Linked DNA regions of Homo sapiens: region 1 is linked to region 2. The links come from fine-mapping of genetic effects on gene expression. A gene starts in region 2. The other region holds a variant in brackets. All regions are shown on one strand. Distances are between the middles of the regions. Region 1 overlaps IMMT (inner membrane mitochondrial protein). Region 2 holds the start of IMMT (inner membrane mitochondrial protein).

Region 1 (11,178 bases), 22 kb before region 2:
TTAGTCACTGTCCTTTGATCCTTGATAAATATTTCACATGCAAATGCATATGTGTATATTTTTAAAGTCAAGTTTGAGGGGGAATTAAGAGGTGACAGATAAAATTCTGAAAATTTTCACTTTGCCCAAAATGAAAGATGAGAGGAACCAGGCAAGGAAAAGAACAGCTGGAACAGCAGACATCTCCATCTTACGTTTATAACTTAATTTCAAGGTGCCCAAGTGATAAAGAGAGAAAAGTGAAAAGTGAAGAAAAAACAGGACTAAAAGAAAAAAGAAGTAGGAAAAATGAAATATTTCACTTAGTTAGAAGTCATTTATTAAATATTCACAAATATTTGTAACACAATCAGAAGAATACAAAAAATCAAAAACGAAAATCCAAATCCAAGTAGGAAAACTAATGCCATAGGCACAGAATGACACCTATGCTATTCTAAGAAACTTGGTTCCTCAGGGTAGGGCAGAACCAGCACATTACAAGGGAAACAGGAGCAAAACAAATGACAAGGAGATCAAAAAACTATAAACAGCTGCCATGAGTACTGAACTCTCTGTCCAGCAAAAAGCTACATCCCACGACCTCCAGAGACATCAACATATTATAGCACAGTACAAAAAATTATGTTACATGTGCTTTAAGACAGAAAAATAAATTGATAAATATCTATTATCTTTTTTAAACCATCAAAAAATTTAAGAATCCTGACCTACCGAGGACAGCAAAAATAATAATAATGATAAAAAAAACTTGGCCAGGTGTGGTAGCTCATGCCTGTAATCCCAGCACTTTGGGAGGCCAAGGTGGGAGGATTTCTTGAGGCCAAGAGTCCAACACTACCCTGACCAACACAGTAAGAGCCCATCTCTTAAAAACAAACAAACAAAAAAACCATAAAACTGAAACTTAAAAAGGAATATGCTTGTTAGCTGGAAACCAGCGATGTGTAGAACATTCCATGCCCCACCAGTGTCAGATAAAAGCACTACTAGAGAGTCCAGAGGCTAGATGATAAGGCAGTGTAAGCCATTCTGACTCCAACAAATAAATTTACAATTATTAATAAACAATTATTTACAAGTATAAATTAACAATTATTAATAAAAGACTCTTAGGGCTGGGTACAAGGGCTCAGGCCTGTAATCCCAGCACTTTGGGAGTTCAAGGTGGGAGGATCACTTGAGCCCAGGAGTACGAGACCAGTCTAGGCAACATAGTGAGATGCCTGTGTCTATAAAAAATTTTTAAAAAATTAGCTGGGTATGGTGGTACACGCCTGTAGTCCCAGCTACAGAGGAGGCTGAGGTGGGAGGATGGCTTTGGCCTGGGAGGTTGAGGCTGCAGTGAGCCATGACAGTGCCACCGCACTCCAGTCTGGGTGACAGAAAAGAGCCTATCTCAAAAAAATAAATAAAGGACTTTTAGGCAAGCTGCTAAAACATAAATAATCAATTTCTGTTTCCCAGAGTATAAAGAATCTTTAGCGCTAACATAATCTTTAGTATTATTTGGAGTTTTCACCAACTATACACTAAGAATAGCCTTTGTCACTTAGGTAAAAGAAGTTTAGATGAAATGAAGGTGATGAATAAAGCAATGCCACTAAAAAACAACCGCAGCAACAAAAGAAACCACAACTAGGTGATAGATGACAAACTTGTGCTGATAGTTTAAGAAGAGAGCAACTGGGAGATGACCCAAAATCCTTAAGAAGCTGTCTGGTTTACATACACTCAATTTTAACTTGTTCTTGTTTTTCCTGTTGTGCAAGGCGAGCTGCAACTTCTTCAGGTGGTCGCTCCCTTATAGAAGATGAGGATGCTTCTTCTTGCAGCAAAAGTAAATAAGAGGAAATCAAATTTCAGCATAGAATTTTAATAGCTAACAGGGATATAAAAAAAGCATCGTTTGTACTGGCCAGTTATATCAATGCAGGGCATTTTTGTGTTAAGAATTCTAAAACCATATCATTACTCTTAATGATTCCAAAATGAAGAAATAGGAATCAGGCTTTAATCTTCTTGTTTAAAAAGATACATTCGGACATTTAAATTTTAAAAATTTCCTAAGAAACTCTGAAGACCTAAACCTAGTGTAAATGTATACTTAGTGTCTACGTGTTGCCTAGGCATTAAATAGTTCTGATGAGTGTATCATGTATAAAAGAACAAATAGAAATAATTAAATTACCTGAAAGTGCAGGTGTGGGTTTTCCTTCACCAATTTCAGGGTGATCAGTTTTTAAAGATTCCTCAGGCTGAACTGCAGGGGCTGGGACCGACAGGGTATCACCTGCTGCAGAAATAATTTGAGCCGCTTCTGTAGGTGCTATAAATATATGTTACTCATGGTATTTATACTTTCCTGGGTTAACAGAGAAACACACAGAAATTTACTACCACCATCACCACCCACTTCACATCTGACTCCTTAGAGACACAAATATTTGTACTGCCACATGTTTGAATAACACACAAACAGGGGCACTGTCCACTGCATACATAAACTCACACAAAATGGACAATGGTTGGGAACGAACAAAAGAAAGAAGTCTTGTCTGCATCCACCTGCATTTTAACCATCATTATTCCAGGCAAGGCTTATAATAATAATATTAACACACAAGAAGGGGACATTTACACATGGAAAAAGAGTAACAAAGGAAAAAGCCTGTTAATGATGAAGACAGACAAAAGAAAGCAACTAAACAAAGAATATTTTTTAATTGCTTTGAAGAGTGGTAGAAGACGTGTGAGCAGGAAAAAGATTACAGTTTTAAACAAAAAGATGAAAGGTCACAGTGATCAAGAACAGAACTGAGTTAAAATACATATATATATATATATTTTTTGCACACTTTGGGAGGCCAAGACCAACCTGGCCAACACAGCAAGATCCCATCTCTATCAATCACTCAATCAATTTTTTGTGTGTGTAGTATATTTTTTTTTTTTTTTTTTTTTTTTGAGACAAGGTCTCACTCTGTTGCCCAGGCTGGAGAATAGTGGCACTATCATGGCTCACTGCAACCTCGACCTCCCAGGAACAAGCAATACTCCCACCTCAGCCTCTGGCACACAGCTGGGACTATACGTGTATACCACCACACCTGGCTGATTTTTACATTTTTTTGTAGAGACAGGGTCTCCCCTCTCTTGCCCAGGCTGGTCTCAAACTGCTAGGCTCAAGTGATCCTCCCTCCTCGGCCTCCCAAAGTGCTGGGATTACAGGTGTGAGCCACTGTGCCCGGCCTTGGTTTTAAAGTAACAGTCAATTATCAATCCCCTGGCTCAGCATTCTCTTCCCATCCCACCCAGCATATGAAACAATGTTTTTTTTTGTTTGAGACAGAGTCTTGCCCTGTCACCCAGGCTGGAGTGTAGGGGTGCAATCATAGCTCACTGCAGCCTCAACCTCCTGGGCTCAAGTGGTCCTCCCTCCCGAGTGCTGGGACTGCAGGCATGCACCGCCATCCCCAGCTAATTTTTAATTTTTTATAGAAACAGGATCTTGCTAAGTTGCCCAGGCTACTTTCAAACTCCTGGGCTTAGGTGATCCTCCCGCCTTGGTTTCCCAAAGTGCGGGATTACAGGCATGAGCCCATGCACCTGGCCTAAAATAAAATTCTTACAATGGCTTCCAAGGACTGCCACAATAAACTTTTTGCTCCCTCTCTGACCTCATTTGCTCCTGTTCTCCCCTTACTCAATTCACTCTAGCCTCATTTGCCCTTTGTTTGAATATATCAAGCCTCTACACCAGCTAATCCTGCTGCCTGGGATGCTTTTCCCCACCACCCTTTTACATGACTTACCCCCCTTATCTCTTTCTAATCTTTGCTCAGATAACCCCTTCCAGGTAAGGTATTCCTTACACATTCCATTTAAAACTGCAGTATTCCCTCCCACAATGTCTGACATCCTATACGTTTTACTTGTTTATTTCCTCTCC[G/T]CACCCAATCAAGAAATATTAGCTGAAAAAATTTTTTAACTGTTTTTGTTCATGGCTGTTTCCCCAGTACTTACAAGAATGTCTAGCACAGAAAAGACAGTAAATTTCTGCTGAATTAAAGAAAGTCAGGTGATTTAATCAAGGACAGACACAACAAAGGAGAAACATAAGAAGTTCAAATGTATACTGAACAGGTTAGAGTTCAACAGGCAAGTGCTGTAAATTAGGGTGGGGTGACTGGTAGTTTCTGAAGTCAAAAAATATCTGCAGGGACTAGAGCAAGACACTTTCATCACTAAGAAAGAAGAGAGGATAAAGAATTGGTGAAGAGGCCGGGCATGGTGGCTCACGCCTGTAATCCCAGCACTTTGGGAGGCCGAGGCGGGCAGATCACCTGAGAGCGGGAGTTTGAGACCAGCCTGACCAACATGGAGAAACTCCGCCTCTACTAAAAATAGAAAATTAGCTGGGCGTGCTGGCACATGCCTGTAATCCCAGCTACTCAGGAGTCTGAGGCAGGAGAATCGCTTGAACCTGGGAGGTGGAGGCTGCGGTGAGCCGAGATTGTGCCACTGCACTCCAGCCTAGGCAACAAGAGCGAAACTCCATCTCAAAAAAAAAAAAAGAATTGGTGAAGAGATTTACCTATAATTTTAAAAAGATGGTTCAAAATATAAGTACCTGTTGCTGAAGCTGGAGTATCTCCCTTTTGTTTTTGGAGTTGTGAGGCAGGCTGTTTAGATTCTTTCATTACTTCTGATACACTAGAGATTTTTAGTGGACCCGACTGAATCTTGGAAATAAAAAACATTTAACATTTCAGATATACTACTGTTTTTTAAAAAGGTACAGTGATTTGCAGTATTTCAAATGCCAAGTCTTTCAGGCTTTTAACATAAAGTTATCAACACTTTGTAACATATGTATTTTATTAAACATAGTTGAGAGAAACCACCATTACTAGAAAAGTGCAGTTCAAAAATTTCATTCCAAATGACCAGCCCATATTTTAATAGTAACAAAGGTTTCTATTAGGGTGACCAATAAAGTCCATGACATATGATCTTCTCATTAAACACCATTGCTTGTACTTACACAGTATTAAGAAGACTATTATCATTTCCTTTCTAAATCAAACTATGATGTCTTCTGTATACATTCAGTTAGAAGCAAATGATTATTAAAGGCTCTGAGTGAAAATACAAATGAATTTTGTTTCTTTGATCTCCAGGATTCATGCAATTGCACAGTAAGATATATGATCAATTTGTAAGCAAGGCTTGCCTTCCCCTTTCCCAATTATTGCCTGCTCTAAGTTTAAGACACTATTCATTTAAGAGGGCTGCCAGATATGTGCCAGAGAAAATTACTTTTATTTTTATTTCCACTTATGTTATTCCACTTTTTGCCCTAACTTGGCAGTAGGACTCAGATATCCCTAACATGACTACTTAAACACAACAGGGTGGTTCTGAACTTAGTCACTACCAGAAACCAGAATTATTTCCATTTTCATTAAAATATTATTTTTGAATGATGAAGACTGTTTACTGTAACAAGCAAAATAATGCCAAGATATATCAGTGGCTTTAACTTGCCTCTTCACTGCTCCTTTCCCTTTCCACTCTCTTAGGTAGCCACTGCTAATAGCCTGGAATCTATCCTTCTACTCCTGAGCAAAAGCTCTCGTATATACACATAAACAATGTTTCACTTCCTTAAACAAACCAAAATAGGGTTATATTATACAAATTACCTTGTAACTTGCTCTTTTTTTATTTAACACTATATCATGGACATTCTCTTTCAGGTCAAGAAATTCTGTTTAGTTGCATAATATCCTCATATAACGATTTCCCATAATTTGGTCAACTTCTCCTCTATAGTCATTCAAATTGTTTCCTGTTTTGTTTTGCTTTGCTGCTACAAACAAAGCAATGAACATCCATCCCTGTCCATTTAAATGAAAAGCACCGTAGTGTAATATCTATGGGATAGTTTTCAGAAGAGGAATTGTTGGGTCAAAGGGGTTGTATATTTTTAACAGATGTTAACAGATCACTTTCACTTAAGGTTCTAGTGATTCACATTCTCATAATTAAAGTTTGTGTGTGATCTATTTCCAAATTCAGTTGTTTTATTCCTCTAATTTCTTTTCCTGTGTCCCAACCTTATTTTATTAAAGTAGCAGTATAAAAAAGTCTATCTAGAAAAGCACCCCTCCTCATCCCTTTTTCAAAATGTTCTTGAGTAGTCTTGTACATCATTAATTCCTCCATATAAATGTTAAAACTGTATTATCTGGTTCCTCACCATCTAGAAAAATTCATTCAAATTCTTACTAGATTTGTGTATATAGACACATCATAAAAACATCATTTCTCTCTAATATATACATATACATTTCTCTCAAATATATATATATGTATGTCATATATATTTGGTACTATCTTAATGTAATTTGGTACTATCTTAATATATATTTGGTACTATCTTGGTACTATCTTTAATGACATACATATATATTTGAGAGAAATGACATTTTTATGATATGAAGTTCTATCCAGGAATGTAACAGTTGTAACCATTTAGGCAGGTGTTATTCCATGTCCATCAAAAAGATTTTATGCATGGACAGTAAATATAGAGACAATGTTATAACAAATCATGTTGCCACTAAAAAGGTTACTATGAAATAAAATGCACAGCAACAAGTTGACACGATGTTTAACAGTAGAGAGTGCTTGAGTAAATGGTAAAAAAAAAAAAAATAGAAACACTAACTGCTATTGTAATTCAGAGGTGAGAAAATTAACTTAGATCTGTACAGTGAAGGATGCAGCCCCTGAAGAGAACATTAATAAGCGAAGGAAAGGAAGTCATTCTGGGTAGGAGACCATCCTGAAAAAAAGCTGTACAAATGGAAGGGATCTTAGATGAGTTCTATCTTTAAGCATGGCCCTTGGAACAGTGCCTGCAGCATAATAATCATTTGATTAACATTGGTTGAATAAATGAATAAATGGAAAGCAAAGACATATTTGTAATGAAGGGCAACTGGTGTACAGCTAAGGGCTTATGTGCAGGACCCAGAGATAAGGCTGCAAAGGTAAACAAGTGCCAGATTGCCAAGGGTATTGAATGTCAACTTAAAAGCTAGCAAAGACCACAAACTACAGAAATAAAGGAGCCCAATGGCCAGTTCCTAGGCTGACATTTAAGCACTCCTGGCTTCATACTTATTCAGAAGGTAAGAAAGATTTCTCTAGTTTTTACATCCTGTGGTCTTCCATCTTTTAAACAATACAAAATATCTGGAAGTACATTAATAGGTGTTATCATGAAAATATCATAGCACTTCTTTTAGAAGATTCTCTGGTATTAATATAAGGATGACCCAGATTCTGTTAGGAGGAGAGATCTAGGTGGGTAGAGACTGGGAGGAAGATGGGAAAGACTGTGTGCGCATGGAGAGCAACAGGCCTAGTTCAGGAGACAATTTGGATATGAAGTGATAAAGGTCAGAATAGGGGTACGGATAGTGGTAATGCAAGAAGATTAAACAAGATAGGATAGCTAACAAAATATGAGCAACCTGTGAAGAATCTACGAATTCTGGCCTAGCTACACCTGACAACTTGGTACTATCTTTAATCCAAAAAAGCAAATAAGGAGCAGTGTAAGTGTGGAGGTGGTTTAGTACAAACATGCTGAGTTATTAACTAGAAATGTTCTCCAAGGTAGCTAAAGTGGAGTGAGGAGAGGCCAAGGCTATTTGGAGAGATAAAGGATTCATCTACAAAGAATGAAATCTGAAGTCACATCAACTGAGAAAAGAACACTTCTCTGAATTTTTCAACCTTACTCCATGCTCCTAGAACAGCTTCCAGCTATTTTTTCCTGGGTCATGCAGCTTAAAATAGATTCAAGATTTTAGAATAAATCCACAGGGTTCTGCTCCTTGACTTATGAAGCTGCAAAATTATCTCCCTCAGCCAATATGGACATTTTAAAGTCCATAGGGAAGAATAAATGATGTAGAAGACTAGTCAAAAACATTGTGAAAAAGTATGGTTGGGGTGGGTTACAGGGAGGAAGTTGGATGACATTTATTTTTCCAAACGTTAACTTTTGCTATAGGATGGGTCTCTAGATCATGTTAGATACTGGACAGTAAGTCCACCCAGTTTCTAAGAATAAACTGATCAGCTATGTCCAGCCTCCTAGCGTAAAGAAATGCCCAATACCAAAGAGCCAAAAATCCATGCTCTTTTACAGACTTTTTTTTTTTTTTACAAGAAGCTGTGTGTGAATGAAGAAACATTTAAGATTAGAGTTTAAAAATTTTTTTAGGCTGGGCGCAGTGGCTCACGCCTGTAATCCCAGCACTTTGGGAGGCTGAGGTGGGCGGATCACCTGAGGTCAGGAGTTTAAGACCAGCCTGGCCAACATGGTGAAACCCCATCTCTACTAAAAAATGCAAAAATTAGCTAGGCATGGTGGTGCACGCCTGTAGTCCCAGCTACTTGGGAGGCTGAAGCAGAATTGCCAGAACCCAGGAGGCAGAAGTTGCAGTGATCCGAGATCGCGCCACTGCAGTCCAGCCTGGGCGACAGAACGAGACTCTGTCTCAAAAGAAAAAAAAAAGAAAAAAATTTTAAGGCTGGTGAGAAAAAAAGGAATACACACAAAGTTACAGGAATAGTACAAGATATCCTGTCAACTAATCAGCATCTAGATGAAAATTCTGTGACTTTGTGTTATGGTCTAAAAGGAACCATTACTAACCATAATACGTGGTTTTATGTCATGACCATTCTGCACTTGTTTTTATAGTGTTCTAAGTAAGAGCTTGATAGCTGCAACAGTATGGGATAATATATAGATGTCCCCCTCAGTCCATAGGGAAACCATGGTTACCTCTACCCAAGTATCTCCTCCATTTACCCTTGTGTGCAGCACAGTTATTTTCTATGTGATATGTACTGAGAGCACTTATGGGACTCCAAAAGAATAATTATCCATCTGTACCAGCTACTATTAGTTCAATTTAAAGGAAACTGGCGGCCAGGAGCGGTGGCTCAAGCCTGTAATCCCAGCACTTTGGGAGGCAGAGGCAGGTGGATCACGAGGTCAGGAGATCGAGATCATCCTGGCTAACACAGTGAAACCCCGTCTCTACTAAAAAAAATACAAAAAATTAGCCAGGCGTGGTGGTGAGCGCCTGTAGGCCCAGCTACTCAGGAGGCTGAGGCAGGAGAATGGCGTGAACCCGGGAGGCGGAACTTGCAGTGAGCTGAGATCAGGCCACTGCATTCCAGCCTGCGTGACACAGCAAGACTCCATCTCAAAAAAAAAAAAAAGAAAAAAAAAAACTGGCCAGGCATGGTATCTCACACCTGTAATCCCAGCACTTTGGGGGGCCGAGGCAGGCGGACCACAGGTCAGGAGTTCAAGACCAGCCTGGACAACATGGTAAAACCCCGTCCCTACTAAAAATACAAAAAATTAGCCGGGTGTGGTGGCGCCCGCCTATAATCCCAGCTACTTGGAAGGCTGAGGCAGGAGAATCGCTTGAACCCAGGAGGCGGAAGTTGCAGTGAGCCGAGATCACATCACTGTGCTCCAGCCTGGGCAACAGAGCAAGACTCCGTCTTGGAAAAAAAAAAAGAAAACTAACATACATACATCTGGCAAGTTGCACTGCATACAGACAAAACACAACTGGCTCTCCATATCTGTAGGTTCTACATCCATAGATTCAACCAACCACAGATTGAAAAAGTATATTTTTTAAAAAATTGCACCTGAGGCCAGGCATGGTGGCTCATGCCTGTAATCCCAACACTTTGGGAGGCTGAGGCGGGCAGATCACCTGAGGTCAGGAGTTTGAGACCAGTCTGGCCAACATGGTGAACCCCATCTCTACTAAAAATACAAACAATTAGCCGGGCATGGTGGCAGTTGCCTGTAATCCCAGCTACTCGGGAGGCTGAGGCAGGAGAATCGCTTGAACCCGGAGGCGGAGGTTGCGGTGAGGCGAGATCATACCACTATACTCCAGCCTGGTTAACAAGGGTGAAACTCTGTCTCAAAACAAAAACAAAAACAAAAACAAACAAAAACAAACTGCATCTGTACTAAACATGGACAGACTTTTCTTTCTTGTCATCATTCCCTAAATAACACAGTATAATGAAAATTTAGACAGCATTTACAATGTATTAGATATTACATCTAATCTAGAGATGATTTAAAGTATATGGGAGGGTATACATAGGTTATATGCAAACACTGTAACATTTTATATCTGAGACTTGAGCATCCATGGGATTTTTGTATCCACAGGAGGTCCTGAACCTCTCCTTCAAGAATACCAAAAGACAACTGTATTTTCAACATGAAAACAACTTGCTTTTAAAGTATTTCATTGGATAAACTGAAATATTGTTTAAAACTCTTACCGATTTCTTTGGCAATGGAACATTATAAGCTGCAGGACCAAGAACCATCTCGAAGAGTTTGTCTGAGTAAGGTATGGTTTTCTCTACACTTTCCCGGAAATGGGAATCCCATTTGGCATATAGGATAGTGCCACCAATACCTCCACCAACAAACAAAAGGCCAGCTCCAGCAATTTTGCCAGTAGTCAACCTAAGTGAAAGAAACAGGAAATACATTTATATTTCTTGGCTCTCCTACACCTATTTTCCTATACCAATGTAACCATCTCGAAGACCTCTAGCCTCTACTTATCTACCACTAATTCAGATCATAGCAGCCAAGTTTACCACCATGTCTGCACATCACCTTTTCCTGATTTGTTTATAACATGTTGCCACCAAAAATAGTATTTATTCATTTTAGGAGGCCTAGGTGGAAGGGTTGCTTGAGCCCAGGAGTTCAAAACCACCCTAGGCACCACAGTAAGGCCCCATCTCTACCCACCACACCCTGCCAAAAAAATTAGCCAGGTGTAGTAGCACGTGCCCCAGCTACTCAAGAGGCCGAGGTAGGAGGAATGCTTAAGACTGGGAGATGAAGGCTGCTGTGAGCCATGATCATGCCATTGCACTCCAGCCTGGAGCAACAGAACAAGACCTTGTCTCAAAAAATAAATAAATAAATAAATAAAAGTATGAATAACTAAAAATTTTTTTTAAATACAATATCTAGAAATCTACCCTTTAACTCAACATGTTCACAATCATGAGATTCTCTCTGAA
Region 2 (17,025 bases):
TGGTAATTCTATGTTTAAATTACTGAGACACAGCCAGGCTCAGTCGCTCACGCCTGTAATCCCAGCACTTTGGGAGGCTGAGGCAGGCAGATCACCTGAGGTTGGGAATTCGAGACCAGCCTGACCAACATGGAGAAGCCCCGCGTCTCCAGTAAAAATACAAAATTAGCTGGGCGTGGTGGCGCATGCCTGTAATCCCAGCTACTCGGGAGGCTGAAGCAGGAGAATCCCTTGAACCCAGGAGGTAGAGGTTGCGGTGAGCCGAGATCGCGCCACTGCACTCCAGCCTGGGCAACAAGAGTGAAACTCTGTCTCCAGAAAAAAAAAAAAAAGTTACTGAGACACCACTAAACTATTTTTTCACAGCAGCTGTACCATTTTACATTCCCACTAGCAATGTATGAGGGTTCCAATTTCTCTATACCCTCACCAACATTTGTTATTTTCCATTTTTGTTTTGAGATGGAGTTTTGCTCTTGTCGCCCAGGCTGGAGTGCAATGGCGCAATCTCAGCTCCCTGCAACCTTCGCCTCCCGGGTTCAAGTGATTCTCCTGCCTCAGCCTCCCAAGTAGCTGGGATTACAGGTGTGTACCACCATGCCCGGCTAATTTGTTATTTTCCATTTTTATTATAACCATCTTAGTGGTTGTGAACTGAGTATCTCACGGTTTTAATTTGCATTTCCCTAGTGTCAAAGGATGTTGAGCATCTTTCCATGTGCTTCTTAGCCATCTGTATATCTGCTTTGGATGAATGGCTATTCAAGTCCTTTGCTCATGCATACACATACACGCACACACGCGCACACACACACGCACACAAATACATATATGTATATATGTGGAGACAGCATCTCACTCTGTCACCGAGACTGGAGTGCTGTGGCACCATCATGGTTCACTGCAGCCTCGACCTCACAGGCTCAAGCAATCCTCCCACCTCTCAGCCTACCGAGTAGCTAACACTACAGGTGCATGCCACCACACCCAGCTAATGTTTGTATTTTTTGTAGAGACAGAGTTTCACCATGTTGTCCAGGCTAGTCTTGAACTCCTGCGCTCAAGCGTTCTGCCTGCCTCAGCTTCCCAAAGTGCTGGGATGACAGGCATGAGCCACAGAGCCTGGGCCCTTTGCCTGTATTTTTATTTGGGTAGTCTTTTTTGTTACTGAGTTGCAGGAGTTCCTTACCTAAAAAGAAACACCTCATCAGATATGAGGGTCTAGTATCCAAAATATCTAGTATCCATTAGAATACTTTCATCCTTTTCACTCTCAAGTATCCCTCTGATGCACAAAAATTTAAAATTTTAATGAAGTCCAATTTATCTTTAGTTTCTCTTGTTGCTTGTGCTTTTGGTGTTATAGTTAAGAAACCATTGCCAAACATAAGGTCTGTCTCCAGAGCTCTCTTAAGTACTAAACTATTAACATAAACTAAATATCCTACATTAACACACAAAATATTGGCTACTTTTTTGTCCTGGAATTCCTTTTTATTAATAAGGACCTATGACATAGAAAGGACAACACTGTTTCAAAGCAATCTGTCTAGACATATGTTATAAGGTTAGCCTTGCTGCTTCTAACCCGCAGAAACGTGATATTAAAAAAAAGAGGAAACATATAATTCCCATGTAATGTTCTTTTTTTTTTTGAGATGGAGTCTCGCTGTGACACCCAGGCTGGAGTGCAATGGTGTGATCTCGGCTCACTGCAACCTCCATCTCCTGGGTTTAAGAGATTCTCCTGCCTCAGCCTCCCGGGCAGCTGGGATTACAGGCACCTGCCACCACACCCGGCTAATTTTTGTATTTTTAGTAGAGACGGGGTTTCACCATATTGGCCAGGCTGGTCTTGAACTCCTGACCTCAAGTGTTCCGCCCCATGATTAATGCTGTTACACAGACCATCTGTTCCTTAGCTCTACCAAACTAAAGTGAAGACATAAAGAAACCACAATCTAGCATGACAACCTGGACATGGAGCCTGTAGTATGAGCTGCCTCATGTGAACTCTAACTAGAGGTTCCAGGTTTCCTCCACAGACTGCTGGTTGCTGTCAACTGATAACGTTTTTGTGGATCTTGTCATACATAAGGACTCCTCCCACACAAACGAAAAAGGCACCCATAAGTTAATGGGCAGTTCTACATTTGAAATATAGATTGATATACAACAAATTAACTTTTTCTACTGTTAATTTAAAATAGTTTATAAGAATCATGCATTAAGGTTAAAAAGTATATCCCACAAAAAAATCCAGTAAGTTTTTACATTGAAATTTTACATTTTACATTACAATTTTACATTGAAGCAGCATTACATTTCAGTATAAACATATTCTATTCTAGGAGAACACGTGCTCTTTAGTTATAGAAATGGCAGATACTTATCAGTATGACAAAAGCAGGAACTTGACACTTTAGTTTTCCCTGCACATATGTGAATATATTTTGTATGTTATCACTTCGGTGTAGTAAGTTACGGCGTAAGATGTATTTCAAAATGGTTTGAAGGCTACTGGTCTAGAGATATGAAAAAAGGAACAATGAAGAGGATTCTAGCATGGGTAGAAGCAAACACCTGGCCGCATGATCTACTAAACTACTTTCTAGCACGTGTGGTTGGCTGCCTATCTCTATCACTGAGTAACATAATGTTTCATAATCCTAACAGAAAGAAGGAATTCTAGAAGATGATAGCTCATGTCCACACACAAGTTCAATCCTAAACTAGCTGGGTTATCAAACTTGGTCTTAAGTAAGCTGGAGCGGTTGATCCTCAAGAATAATAATGTTTCTTCTTCTTCTTTCAAGTTATAAGCAGGAAAGACTACTCCATATGTAAATGACCACTTCCAGGTTTGTAGTTTGAGAGAAGGCTAGGCTAGGCGGAAAGCCCATGTCCTCCAAACTCAATGACCACTTCAAAAAGGCTGGGCCTGGTGATGCAGTATTGGGACTAAGAGAAGAAAGATGGTGTTAGGTCTGAGGAATAAAAGAAGAAAACAAAAACAGAGGGACCAGAGTTCTAAAGCACATTTACTGAATACCCACATCTAAGGAATGCAAGGATGATAAGCCCAAACATAAAGAATAAGGCAGATACTGTGTCGGGTGCAGTGACTTAAGCCTGTAATCCCAGCACTTTGGGAGCCCAAGGCGGGCAGATCACGACGTCAGGAGATCGAGACCATCCCGGCTAATATGGTGAAACCCTGTCTCTACTAAAAATACAAAATATTAGCTGGGCACAGTGGCACGTGCCTGCAGTCCCAGTTACTCGAGAGACTGAGGCAGGAGAATTGCTAGAACCCAGGAGGCGGAGGTTGCAGTGAGCCGAGATTGCACCACTGCATTCCAGCCTGGGCAAAGAATAAGGTAGATACTATCTGTGATGGTTCATTTTATGTGTCAACTTGGACTGTGTTTTTGGATGAGATTAACATTTTAATTGGTGAACTAGTGGCCAGGCATGGTGGCTCACTCCTGTAATCCCATCACTTTGGGAGGCAAAGGCGGGTGGATTGCTTGAGCCCAGGAGTTTGAGACCAGCCTGGGTAATATAGCCTGTCTCTACAGAAAAAAAAATACAAAAGTTAGCTGGGTGTGGTGGTGCATGCCTGCAGTCCTAGCTACTCAGGAGGCTGAGGTGGGAGGATGGCTTGAGTCTGGTGGATGGAGGTTGTAGTGAGCTGAGATTGCACCAATGCACTCCAGCCTGGGTGACAGAGCAAGACCCTATCTCAAAAAAAAAAAAAAAAAAATTTGCCCTATAACATGGGTGGGCTTCATTCAATCAGTTGAGGGCTCAAAAACAACAAAAAGCAAGAGGCAATTCTCTAGCAGACTGCCTCCAGACTGAAACTGCACCATCCACTCTCCTGGGTTTCCAGGCTGCTGGCCAGCAGACTGCAACTGCAATATTGGCTGTCCTAGGTCTCCAGTCTGCCAAACCACACAGCAGATTCTGGACTTGCCAGTCTCCATAACTGTGTGAGTAGAGTCCTTACAATAAATCTTTCAGCCAGGCGCGGTGGCTCACGCCTGTAATCCCAGCACTTTGGGAGGCCAAGGTGGGGGGATCACAAGGTCAGGAGATCGAGACTATCCTGGCTAACACGGTGAAACCCCGTCTCTACTAAAAATACAAAAAAAAAAAAAAAAAAAAAATTAGGCGTGGTGGCAGGCGCCTGTAGTCCCAGCTACTTGGGAGGCTGAGGCAGGAGAATGGCATGAACCCGGGAGGCGGAGCTTGCAGTGTGCTGAAATGGCGCCACTGCACTCCAGCCTGGGTGACAGAGCAAGACTCCATCTCAAAAAAAATTAATAAATAAATAATAAATCTTCCTAGGCTGGGCACTATGGCTCACGCCTGTAATCCCAGCACTTTGGGGAGGAGAAGGTGGGGATATTGCTTGAGCCCAGAAGTTCAAAATGAGCTGGAACAACATTGCGAGATCCCATCTCTACTAAAAGTCCAAAACATTGGCTGGGCATGGTGGCATAAGCCTGTAGTCCCAGCTACTCAGGAGGTGAGGTGGGAGGATCGCTTAAGCCCAGGAGATTGAGACTGCAATGAGTTATGATCACACTGCTGTACTCCAGCCTGGGCAACAGAATGAGACCCTATCTCTACACACACACACACACCCTTATTGTTTCTGTTTCTCTGGAGAATCTGAATATATAATCAGAGGTTTGAAAATCTATGGGATGTTTAAAGGGAGGTCACATCCACTTACACAGATTAAGAAAAATTCCACTTTGGGAGGCCGAGGTGGGCATATCACTTGAGCCCAGAAGCTGAAGACCAGCCTGGGAAACATAATGAGACCCCATCTCTAAAAAATCTTTTTAAATTAAAAAAAAATTCATGAACACATTCATTCTTTCATTTATATATGTCATAAACATTCACTGAGCATCTACTTGGAGCCAGGGACTATTGTTAATACTGGAAATACAGCAGTAAATATGGACACAGTTCCATTGTGGAGCTTACTTTTTAAAGGTGGAAACTGTGTAATAAATACACATTATAACATCAGGTAGTGCTAGGAGCTACAAAGTATAACAAAGTAGGATGGGGTAAAGATATAGTGATACAAGGAAGGCAAGAGTAGTCAGAATTCTATTTTGGATCAGGATGCCCTCTCTGAAGGGAAGGTGACATTTGAGAAATTAACTGAAGGGAATAAGTTAAGCAAACCTGTGAGAAGAGTTCAGGGCAAAAGAAACACCTGATGAAAAGGCAGTGAGGCACATGCTGGAGATTACCAGGAGAATCTGAGTGAGGCAGTAGAAAAATGAAATATGAGAAGAGTCAGATCAAGGGCCCATGGTAAGCAGTTTAGATTTTATTTTGAATGTGATGCGATGTCTCCAAAGAGCATGACCTCATGTTTGCCTTTTAAAAAGCCTTTTACTAAATGTCTTACTGCTTTTACTATTCCCTCCTAGAGTAAAGAATGGACTCTAGGAGGGAACAGTAAAAGCAGTAAGACATTTAAGAAGATGGGGTTGGCTGGGCACGGTGGCTCGTGCCTATATTCCCAGCATTTTGGGAGGCAGAAGTGGGAGGATCATTTGAGCCCAGGAGTTCGAGACCAGCCTGGCCAACACAGAGAGACTCCGTCTCTACAAAAATTTTTTAAAAAATTAGCCAGGGATGGTGGCACATGCCTGTGGTCCCAGCTACTCAGGAGGCTGAGGTAAGAGGATTGCTTGCGCTCAGGAGGTCAAGGCTGCAGTGAGCCATGACTGTGCCACTGCACTCCAGCCTGGGTGACAAAGTGAGACTCCGTATCCAAAAAAAAAAAAAGAAAGATGGGGTTTAATAAAGTGGAAAGGATCTTGACAAGTGAGATATTCTGGATACGTTGATACAATCAAATACGACGAGGCTAGAGAGTCACCTGCTTGGGGATTAAAGTTCTGAGAGTTGATGTAATCTCAAATTAGAGAGTCTATAAAGAGACAGGAAGAGATGAGAAGGTGTATATTTCGAGGTACAAAGCAGAAGCAGACTCAGTAAAGGAAAACAAGAGAGATGGGACCCAAAATATTACTTGAGAGAAGCCAAAAGTACAAAGAGCCTCATAAAGCAGCAATGTCAAATGCTACAGAATTAAGGAGATGGTGAGAATAAACCAAAGAATTTTACAAGACAGCAATTTCAAGAAGCTTAGACATCTTGATTCAGAGCTATAAAAGGGTTCATTTTTTATTACCAAGTTTTAATTAGTTTTCTTAATTCCCAAATGGGATCCCAAAAAGTTGACTCTGAATTAACTGAAAAGGAGGTCATCCAGGTGGGCCTGGTCTAATCACATAAGCCTTTTAAATCTGGGTCTAGAGAGGAAAGACCAAAGTAAAAGAAATTTGGAAGTCAGAGAGGCAAGCTCCTGGTAGCCTGCACGAAAGCAAACATCAATGTTATGAATGGCCTCTAGAGGCCTTGAGGCAAGGAACTGTAGGCAGGCTGTAGAAGCTGGGAGCAGTGGCTGGCAAGAGGCAGCAAGAAAAGAAGTACTTCAGTCCTGTAACTGCAAGGGACTGAATTCTGCCAACAAACTGCATGAGCCTGGAAGAGGACCCTGATCTCCAAATGAGAACCACAGCATGGCTAATACTTTGCAGCCTTATGTGACCTGGAGCGGAGAACACAGATCATCCGTGCCCAGACTTCTATCCTACAGAACCCGTAAGGTCATTCATGGGTGTTGTTTTAAGCTGCTAAATTTGTGGTATTTGTTACGCAGCAATAGAAAACTAACACAGGTTCGTTCCACTTTCCTATGGAAGGGGCTGCTTCTGTTACCTAGCAGCAAATAGGAAGAGAAGCGAACTTGAAAAAACAAAGCTTGACTTTTATGATCTCTAACTCACTATTCCTAGGGATTCTGTTCAATTACTGCTTGAGTCACAGTACTTGGTTTGCTATCTACATTTTGCCAAAATATCAACTTCCTGAAAATCATGAGCAGTGGAAACAGGCTTTTTAATTTTCAATTTTAGAAAGTAACTTTGGCAATTACGCAAAACTAGAAGTAACTGGGTATTTAGGCTCCTTGAATGTCAAAGTAGTCCCAGCGCCTGGAGACACAGATCCCTGCCCTAATCTCAGAAATGAGCCACAAGGTCATGACTCCTGTCTTTCCTTGAAGACCAGGAGTTTCAGCTCCACAAATGAAAATCTTTCGCTTTTGTTTGGATTAAGAATAACTCAGAAGTGTTCTCAGCTGCGAAAAGAAAGGCACTCCCTCCCAGATAATTACAACCTTGACCCCTAAAATGTGGACTCTCGCTAGAAGTCCAGGCACCTCCTTATTAAGGATGCAACAAGCCGCCGCTCCGCTCGTCCTGACGGGAACTGTAGTTCTCGCCCGTCGACCTTCAGCACTGAAAACCTATCGCGCGCCCAACCGGCGACCCAGACGCCAGCAGCCAGGATTGGTCCTGGACGGGGGCAGCGCGGCCCTGATTGGACTACATGCCCACGAAGCCGCGCCTCCCGCTACTCTCCACACCCCACCCCGCTGCTGCAATAACCTCAAGTCATCCCAGTCCGGCGAACTCCCTGGTGGCTGCCTAGCTGCCCGCCCGGGCCTCTCCCGACGAGGGTGGCCCTGAGGCTCGCCTTTGTCCTGGAGGCTAGGCAGCGACCAAGGCTCCCCCGTTTTTCGCTGACGGTTCTAGTTCAGCCTCCTCACGCGCCTCCGGGAGCCCCAGTGCTCACCTGGGCGGCGGCGGTCACACCCGATAACTGACAGGCCCGCAGCATCTCGGTCAAGCGGACGGCGCTGCTGGTGGACTCGAGCTGCCGCGGCGGCGCGAGTTAAGTGGAGGCGTGCTTGCGTGTGTGCGTGCCCGCGTCCGCGCCCGGCGCACCGGAAGCACAGCGGACGCCACTGCGCACGCGCGGCCCCTTCTACCGTCCCCGACTCCGCGGCTCTTAGAGGGTGGGCTGTGTCCCGGCTGCGGAAACGCCAACTCCAGGCGATTGGCGCGAAGGAGGCGAAAAGGGCGGATTCCCTTTCCGGGTCGCGCCCGGGCTGCAGGTCCTTATCCGGAAGGGGTTACTAGGTGAACACTGCCGGAGGGAGAGCGCTCTGAAATCCATTCTTCAGCCGCACGTGGAAAATGGACAGCTGTGACTCTTAAAGAGAATTAAAGCAACAAAGCATCTCAGCCTGCTCTATGAGCTGGATATTTCGTAGGAAGGAGCCGATTTGGCGAAAGTTACGTAAACAATGGAATTGTCTCAGTTTGCGCCTTTGTTTCGTTTGACAGCCCTCCAGGGAGTCATAGTGATTGCTGGAGACGGTGAACTAACACTGTGGGGACCCTTGTGCTAAACGTGTCAAGTGGCACAACAAGGATAGGAACACGGGTCCTTTGGACTCCACAGCTTCTGCTCCTTCCAGATTAAGCCACACTGCTTTCTCCAAGTTGTTACTGTAGTAACATCATTTTGGCTGCAGTTTGTGGATGGGTTGGAAGATGGGAAGTCAATGCAGAAGCACCGTTGAAAGTATTCCACTGGGCAGGGCGCGGTGGCTCACGCTTGTAATCCCAGTACTTCGGGAGGCCGAAGCGGGAGGATCGCTTGAGCCCAGAGGTTCGATACCAGGCTGGGCAACACAGTGAGACCTCGTCTCTATATAGAAAAATAAACAAACAAAAAATTTAAAAAGAAAAGTAGGGCCAGGAGCTATGACTCACGCCTGTAATCCCAGCACTTTGGGAGGCCAAGGCGGGTGGATCGCCTGAGGTCAGGAATTCGAGACCAGCCTGGCCAAAATAGTGAAACCCCGTCTTTACTAAAAATACAAAAAATTAGCTGGGCATGGTGGCGGGTGCCTGTAATCCCAGCTACTCGGGAGGCTGAGGCAGGAGAATTGCTTGAGCCCGGGAGGCGGAGGTTGCAGTGAGCCGAGATCACGCCATTGCACTCCAGCCTGGGCAACAAGAGCGAAACTCTGTCTCAAAAAACAAAAGTATTCCATTGATTCTGTAATCAAAATAAAACACGTTAAATATTAAGCATGGTATTAATACTCCATGTATACTCCAGAATTAATATGTTCGTATTAATACTATTAGCATCTTATTGCAATATCGTGGAAACTAACTTTTCTATCTTCTATTGGATTTGCAAAGTATTCCAAGTCTTAACTGGGTAATTTATTACAATATGTATTCTCTCTAGAGGTAGACTGCGCTATGACTTGTAGCATGGAGAGATGGACTTGAAAATTATCTGAAAGCAATAGTTATGTTTGTATATGTTCTATGTTCTATGGTTTTTAGGGGACTACAGTAATTACATATGTTTCATATCTCTTTCACTTAGCTTCCAGAGCAGTCTCCCGTTTTCTTTAGTAATTTTAGCAATTGAATTGCTGCCTCCCTGCCCACTGCTGTCATGCCCAGTGGTGCCGGTGTGATGACTTTTCTAACACCCTTGTCTTTGAACTTCTTAATGCCAGTGAACGCTTTCATCCTGCTTCAGTCATGTGGTGCCCGTGTGATGACTTTTCTAACACCCTTGGCTTTGAATTTGTCAATGCCAGTGAATGTTTTCATCCTGCTTCAGTCATGTACGTCACAGCCACAACTTGCGCCTGAACATCATTAGCAACCTCTCTAGCTTCAAGATCTCAAACCTCAAAATTAGCCTCCCAACCCCTCATAACCTACGTGGAGAGTCCTCACTCTCCACTTGGAAGTTGTCAATATTTTTGCTTTAAAATGTTATCAGGCAGGCCAGGCGCTGTGGCTCACACCTGTAATCCCAGCACTTTGGGAGGCTGACGCGGGCGGATCACCTGAGGTCAGGAATTCGAGACCAGCCTGGCCAACATGGTGAAACCCCGTCTCTACTAAAAATACAAAAATTAGCTAGGCTTGGTGGTGCGCGCCTGTAATCCCAGCTATGTGGGAAGCTGAAGAAGGAGAATCACTTGAACCTGGGAAGCAGAGGTTGCAGTGAGCCAAGATCACACCACTGCACTCCAGCCTGGGGGACAAAGCGAAACTCCGTCTCAAAAAAAAAAAATTTGTTACCAGGGGCTGGGTGTGGTGGCTCATATCCCGGCATTTTGGCAGACTGAGGTGGGAGGATCACTTGAGCCCAGGAGTTTGAGACCTGCCTGAGCAAAAGAGTGAGACCTCTCCCAGCACTTTGGGAGGCCGAGGCGGGCGGATCATGAGGTCGGGAGATCGAGACCATCCTGGCTAACACGGTGAAACCCCGTCTCTACTAAAAAAAATAATAATAATACAAAAAATTAGCTGGGTGTGGTGGCAGGCACCTGTAGTCCCAGCTACTTGGGAGGCTGAGGCGGAGAATGGTGTGAACCCGGGAGGCGGAGCTTGCAGAGAGCCAAGATCGCACCACTGCACTCCAGCCTGGGCAACAGAGCGAGAGTCTGTCTCCAAAAAAAAAAAAAAAAAAAAAAAAAAAAAAAAAAGTGAAACCTCATCTCTATAAACAATTTTTTTAAATTAGCAGGGGATGATTGTGCATGCCTGTGGTGCCAGCTACTTGGAAGGCTGTGGTGGGAGGATCCCTTGAGCTCAGGAATTCCAGGCTGCAGTGATTGCACCACTGCACTCAGACCCTGTCTCTAAAAAACAAAATTTAAATCAAGTCACTCACTTGTTCAAAAATGTGCAGTGAGGCCAGGCTCAGTGGCTCACACCTGTAATCCCAGCACTTTGGGAGGCCAAGGTGGGAGACCTGTTTGATTCCATACCAAATAATTGAGACCACCCTGGGCAACATAGTGAGACCTAGGTCTCTACAAAAAATTTAAAAATTAGCCAGGTGTGTGCCTGTAGTCTCAGCTACTCAGGAGGCTTAGGTGGGAGGATTGCTTGAGCCTAGGAGGTCGAGGCTGCAGTGAGCTGTGATCGCACCACTGCACTCAAGCCTTCGCAACAGACCAAGACCTAGTCTCAAAAAAAAAAAAAAGTGCGCAATGACTCCCGTTGCCAATTCAAAGAGCTTTTATGAATGTTTCAATATACTTGTCTAGCGTATGTGCCTGTTTTTGGACTCAAAGTGGCCACCATAGGTGGGAGATCAAGTTGGCAACAATAGTGTTCCAAGGTAATACACCCTATATCTTGCTCTGTACCCCAGGCTGGAGTGCGGTGGCTCAATCTTGGCTTGCTGCAACAACCGCCTCCCAAGTTCAAGCGATTCTCCTGCCTCAGCCTCCCGAATAGCTGGAACTACAGGCGCGCGCCACCACGCCCGGCTAATTTTTTGTACCCCTTAGTAGAGACGGGGTTTCACCCTGTTAGCCAGGATGGTCTCAATCTCCTGACCTCGTGATCTGCCCGCCTCGGCCGCCCAAAGTGCTGGGATTACAGGCGTGAGCCACCGCGCCCGGCAAGAATTTTTTTTTTTTTTTTGAGATGGAGTTTCGCTCTTTCGCCCAGACTGGAGTTCAGTGGCACGATCTCTGCTCACTGCAACCTCCGCCTTCCGGTTTCAAGCGATTCTCCTGCCTCAGCCTCCCAAGCCCGGCTACTTTTTGTATTTTTAGTACAGACGGGGGTTTCATCATGTTGGCCAGGCTGGTCTCGAACTCCTGACCTTGTGATCCGCCCGCCGCGGCCTCCCAAAGTGCTGGGATTACAGGCGTGAGCCACCGTGCCCGGCCCCAAGAATTTTTTTTAATAAGAAATTTTGTAGAACCTTCTATAGGCAGTCGTTTTACAGCGGCGAAGAACGGAACCCGGCAGATGACATTGAATAAATGTTGAGTGGACAACTTTGTTCTTTTCCTCTTCCTTGACTCCGCCTCCTTGCTTTCCCTTCATTCTCTTTTGCTCTTGTGCTTTTAAACCCAAAGCGGCCGCCGTAGGCGAAGGTGAAGATGGCTGCCTCTGCCTTTGCTGGTGCAGTGAGAGCAGCTTCAGGTCAGTGGAGAGCGACATACTCCATGCATGCCTTCACAGAAGGGGAAACTGGTGCGGGATGGAATGGGCGTTTAGACTGGAGGTTAACAAGCAAAAAGGGTCATTATTTAAGTTAAGAAGGTTGCGCCCAATTTTCTCTGGGGCGGTGTGACCGGCAGCCCGTACCAAGTCCCCCGACTCGGACTCACGCGGGCCTGTGTGTCACGCATTTGCCGCTTCCTTACCAGCTTTTTTTCCCTAGAAAAGAAGCCAGAGAAACTGGAACGGAGGGGGCGAGGGAAACCAAAAAGTCTCACCTAACTTTCTGATTTAGAGGCTACGACCTGCCATTCACGACCTTTAACCTTGAGAATTAATGTCTCCTAACTTAAGATTCTACACCTCTAAAATGGGGGTCATAACCACCTACCTGGGGATTAAATGAGATAATGCACGTAAAGCGTTTTGGGCAGTGCCTGACACATGGTAAGCTTGAAGGCTAATTTAATTTTTAACTACAGCCCCCGGCACAAGGGCTGGTATGAGGACTTCTTGACTGAGAGATAGCAGAAGTAAAGGCGACTAAATTAAGTTGCCGTGACGTTAAGTACTTTTTGCAAAAAGTTAAAAATCATCCAAATACCATAGGATGCTCAGTAAGTTACTTTCACACAAAATATATTGTTAGGATAACATTTTGTGGGAGAATATACGAGATCAGTCAAGAAAATGCAGCGATGTAAATTTTACCGTTAGAGAAAAGCTTTTTTTATGTGGAGTATTTTTTGTGTTCGCGAAATATAATACATATGAAGAAAATTTTATATAGTATGCATGAATGATTTAACAGTTCTAAAGCAAACACCTGTTTAACACTCAGGTCAAAACAGTGCACTACCAGAAGCCTCCTCTCCCCTATGTATCAAAATTCTCTACTTCCCCCCCAGATATAAACACTGTTCTCATTTTTATAGTTACTATTAGGTTGCCTATTTTTCCTATAGTAGTTTTAGCATCCATATGTGCATCTCAAGAACATAGTTTTGCCTGGTTTTGAACTTCACATGAATTGGTTCATACAGTATATACGCTTTAGTATCTTCTTTTACATTGTGAGATTCATTCATTCATTTTGCGTAGCTGTAATGCTTTCTCATTGCTATATAATTCTTTTTTTTTTTTTGAGACGGAGTTTCTCTCTTGTTGCCCAGGCTGGAGTGCAATGGCACGATCTGGGCTCACTGCAACCTCCTCCTCCCAGGTTTAAGTGATTCCCTTGGAGTAGCTGGGATTACAGGCATGCGCCACCACGCCCAGCTAATTTTGTATTTTTAGTAGAGTTGGGGTTTCTCCATGTTGGTCAGGCTAGTCTGGAACTCCTGACCTCAGGTGATCCGCCCGCCTCGACCTCCCAAAGTGCTGGGATTACGGGTGTGAGCCACCCTGCCCGGCCTGCTGTATAATATTATATGACTGTGCCACAATTCTCCATTTCCAGTTTGGGGCAATTATGTACAAAGCTGATTGATCTCATCCTGGCGCATGAGTCCAATTGTTTCTGAGGATGTGGGTATGTGTGAAAATCGCTGTGGAATTGCCTGGTCAGAGAATATGTATATATTCAGCATTGCCTGATATTGCCAAACTGTTGAGGCCCCACATCCTCACCAACACCTGATATTGATATTGTCAATAGATATTGTCAGACCTACAAATTTTTGTTAATCTGGTGGCTTTGTAATGGTATCTCATTGAGATTTAAATAAGCATTTCTCTGATTAATAACAAGCTATAGTGTGTTTCACATTTTTATTGGCCTTTTGAATTTCCTTTATGAAATATCCACTTAAATATTTTGCCCATTTTCCTATTGGATTGTTTGTCTTATTTATTTAGAGTATTTTTTGTTTTGTTTTTGTTTTTCATTTGTGTGTGTCCTTTAGCTTCTCCCACTCAGGCTTGTCTTTTTTACATTATTTTGGAGTGCCCTTTGACGAAAAGTTGTTTTTCATCTACTTGAATTTATAGTTCTTGTAATTTTTAAATAGATGATGTAGGTAGTTATCAACTTACTATTAATTTAGATTCTACTGAAAACAATTTAAAGAGTGATGTGACAGCTTATTTTAAAATGTCAGTATTTTAAATATGCTGGAAATTATAGCCTTTTTAACAATTTAAACTATTTGATATTTTAGATATTAAGAATTTGTGAAAGGGTAGTTTTTCAAAATTCTTTTAGGAAACATAGGATCAGAAATCTTGAAGACTCCTGGTTTCGATACTGTCACAGTCTCCTCCACTCCCATCCAGTGCAGTTCATGTCCCCCATTCATTCCTTTGATTCATGCCACATAGGGCCATTGTAATTCCCCAAATGTACATCGTCACCTTTGTACGTCCTATTCCCTCTGTCTCTTCGTACTCTGTCAAAACTCTGGTTTTGCGTTACCTCTTTTGTGAAAACATCTGTATTCTCTATACAACAGTGTGTTTAGAGTAGACTAGTCTGTATGAAAATGCCCAGACGGGGCAGAGGACTGAAGGAAATTAGTTACTTTCCTTGATGTACTGCACTTTTGTTAACAAAGCTAGACTGTTAGGTTTCCCTCACAGGCTTAATCACATGATTGATCCACCAGAAGGCGCAGTAGATAGAGCCTCCCCACATATTTTCCCATGAACTGCTCTCAACCAAGATCCCAGTTCCTGTTGTTCCCGTAACCATTTTTTCTAACTTCAGTGTATTTATTCCTGATTTCATCTTGTTGGTTTTGATCTGTTTTTCTCTCTTACTAAGATCACTTGGAGTTCTGATACTCTGTGTCTTCACAAATACATTAACAAGCCATTGTTCCCAGCTTGCTTTTTGGGAAAATTGATAAATATGTCTTATGCAGCCTCAGGATCTTCATAAAAATTGAGAACAAAAGAATTTCATAGGTTTTAATTTTTTAACCAAGAGATACCAAAATCTGATGACGTGTGAAAATTGGAACATTTTCTTGTCTACAGTCCTCCAATGCACTTAATCTTCCAAAGATTACCTCCTGCCTTATTACATCTGCACATCTTTTCAGTTCTTTGCGATTTAACTTATTTGATTTCCAAGGCCCTATGTAAGGGCTCTCTCATCAGTTTTCTGCACCAATGTTTATGCTACCCTTTTCAGTTGCAAATTGTTATCTCTTTTTCTTTTGTGGAGACAGAGTCTCCTTCTGTCTCCTGGAGTGCAGTGGCAAGATCTCGGCTCACTGCAACCTCTGCCTCCTGAGTTCAAGCAGTTCTCCTACCTCAGCCTCCGAGTAGCTGGGACTACAGGCGCGCGTCACTCTGCCCAGCTAATATTTCTATTTTTAGTAGAGACGGGGTTTCACATGTTGGCCAAGCTGGTCGCAAACTCCTGACCTCAGGTGATCCGCCGGGGCCTCCCAAAGTGTTGGGGTTACAGGGGTGAGCTACCACACCTGGCCCTGTTATCACTGATGGCCACATATTAATATACAGGTTAGGTATCTTTAATCTGAAACTTTTTGAGTACCAACATGACACCACAAGTGGGAAATTCTTTTTTTTTTTTTTTTTGAGACGGAGTCCCGCTCTGTCGCTCAAGGTGGAGTGCAGTGGCACAATCTCAGCTCACTGCAAGCTCTGCCTCCCAGGTTCACGCCATTCTCCTGCTTCAGCCTCCCAAGTAGCTGGGACTACAGGCACCTGCCACCATGCCCAGCTAATTTTTTTTTGTATTTTTAGTAGAGACGGGGTTTCACTGTGTTAGCCAAGATGGTCTTGACCTCCTGATCTCCTCGTGATCTGCCTGCCTCGGCCTCCCAAAGTGCTGGGATTACAGGCGTGAGCCACCGCACCCGGCCCACAAATGGAAAATTCTTTACCCGATCTCACGTGATCGGTGGCAGTCAAAACTTTGTTTCATGTACAAAATTATTTAAAATATTGTATAAAATTAACTTTAAGCTATATGTGTAAGATTTATATGAAACAAATGAATTTCATGTTTGGACTTGAGTCCCATCTCCAAGATATCTCCTTTATGCAAAATTTTAAAAAATCTAAAATACTTCTGGTCACAAGCATTTCAGATAATACTCAACCTGTATCATCTTTGCTAAGTATCCCTCTTCTTTATTATCTGCCATTAGCATTCATTAAATGTTTTCTCTGTGCTACCCTTCCAAGCACTATACATGCTTCATCTCATTCAAGTCTCATTACCTCTCCATAATTAACTTCATTTAAATTTGAGGAAACTGGGGCACAGAGAGGTTAAGTAACTTGCCCCTGGTTACACAGCAAGGAAGTCATAGAGCTAGAATATGAGCCCAAATCATCTCATTCAAATCCTAGCACTTCTATATCAACATGGCCCCTCATTTGTTATCTGAAATCAGTGCAGTAGAAAATAGGAGAGTAGTTCTAAGTCCCAGCCAAGCATCAGACTCAGGTGGAGTATTTTTCGCTTTTTTTTTTTGAGATGGAGTTTCACTTTTGTTGCCGAGGCTGGAGTGCAATGTTGCAGTCTCGGCTCACTGCACCCTCTTCCTCCCAGGTTCAAGTGATCTTCCTGCCTCAGCCTCCTGAGTAGCTGGGATTATAGGCGCACACCACCACACCCGGCTAATTTTGTATTTTCAGTAGAGACGGGGTTTCTCCATGTTGGTCAGGCTGGTCTCGAACTCCTGATCTCAGGTGATCCGCCTGCCTCGGCCTCCCAAAGTGCTAGGATTACAGGCATGAGCCACCATGCCTGGCTGGAGTATTTTTCTTAACCAACTTTATTGAGGTAGAATTTACATGCCATAAAATTACCCATTTTATGTGTACAGCTTTATGTTTTTTTATTAATTTAGCAAGCTGTACAACCATTACCACATTCCAGCTTTAGGACTTTTTTTTTTTTTTTTAGTCTTGTATTAGTGCATTTTTTTTTTTATACTTTAAGTTCTGAGGACATTTTCATCATCCTGCGGAACTTTTTTAACACACAATTTTGAGTCCCAAACTGGACTTCAGTCAGAATTTATGGGTGGAGTCGGAGCTCCACGAGTGATTCCGATTTGCAGCCATGAACTATTAGTCTGGCCATAGTGGG

Evidence for each region.
Region 1: its variant is fine-mapped to the expression of IMMT in unexposed skin (GTEx, PIP 0.97).

The regions. Positions count from the first base shown.
Region 1 is chr2:86,169,017-86,180,194 of GRCh38, forward strand. It overlaps IMMT (inner membrane mitochondrial protein), which reads right to left. Exons shown (of 15, transcript NM_006839.3): 3 at 10,417-10,606; 4 at 4,634-4,745; 5 at 2,192-2,329; 6 at 1,733-1,828. Among named protein-coding and RNA genes, the nearest start is that of MIR4779, 19 kb to the right of the region's middle. The variant G/T (reference allele first, on the strand shown) is at 3,953.
Region 2 is chr2:86,187,598-86,204,622 of GRCh38, forward strand. It overlaps IMMT (inner membrane mitochondrial protein), which reads right to left and starts at 7,865. Exons shown (of 15, transcript NM_006839.3): 1 at 7,741-7,865. The coding sequence starts at 7,785. MIR4779 (microRNA 4779) reads right to left here and starts at 5,511; the gene lies at 5,429-5,511. It overlaps MRPL35 (mitochondrial ribosomal protein L35), which reads left to right and starts at 11,860. Exons shown (of 4, transcript NM_016622.4): 1 at 11,860-11,936. The coding sequence starts at 11,894. RefSeq lists enhancers at 7,366-7,415, 7,536-7,715, 7,736-7,855, 11,679-11,948.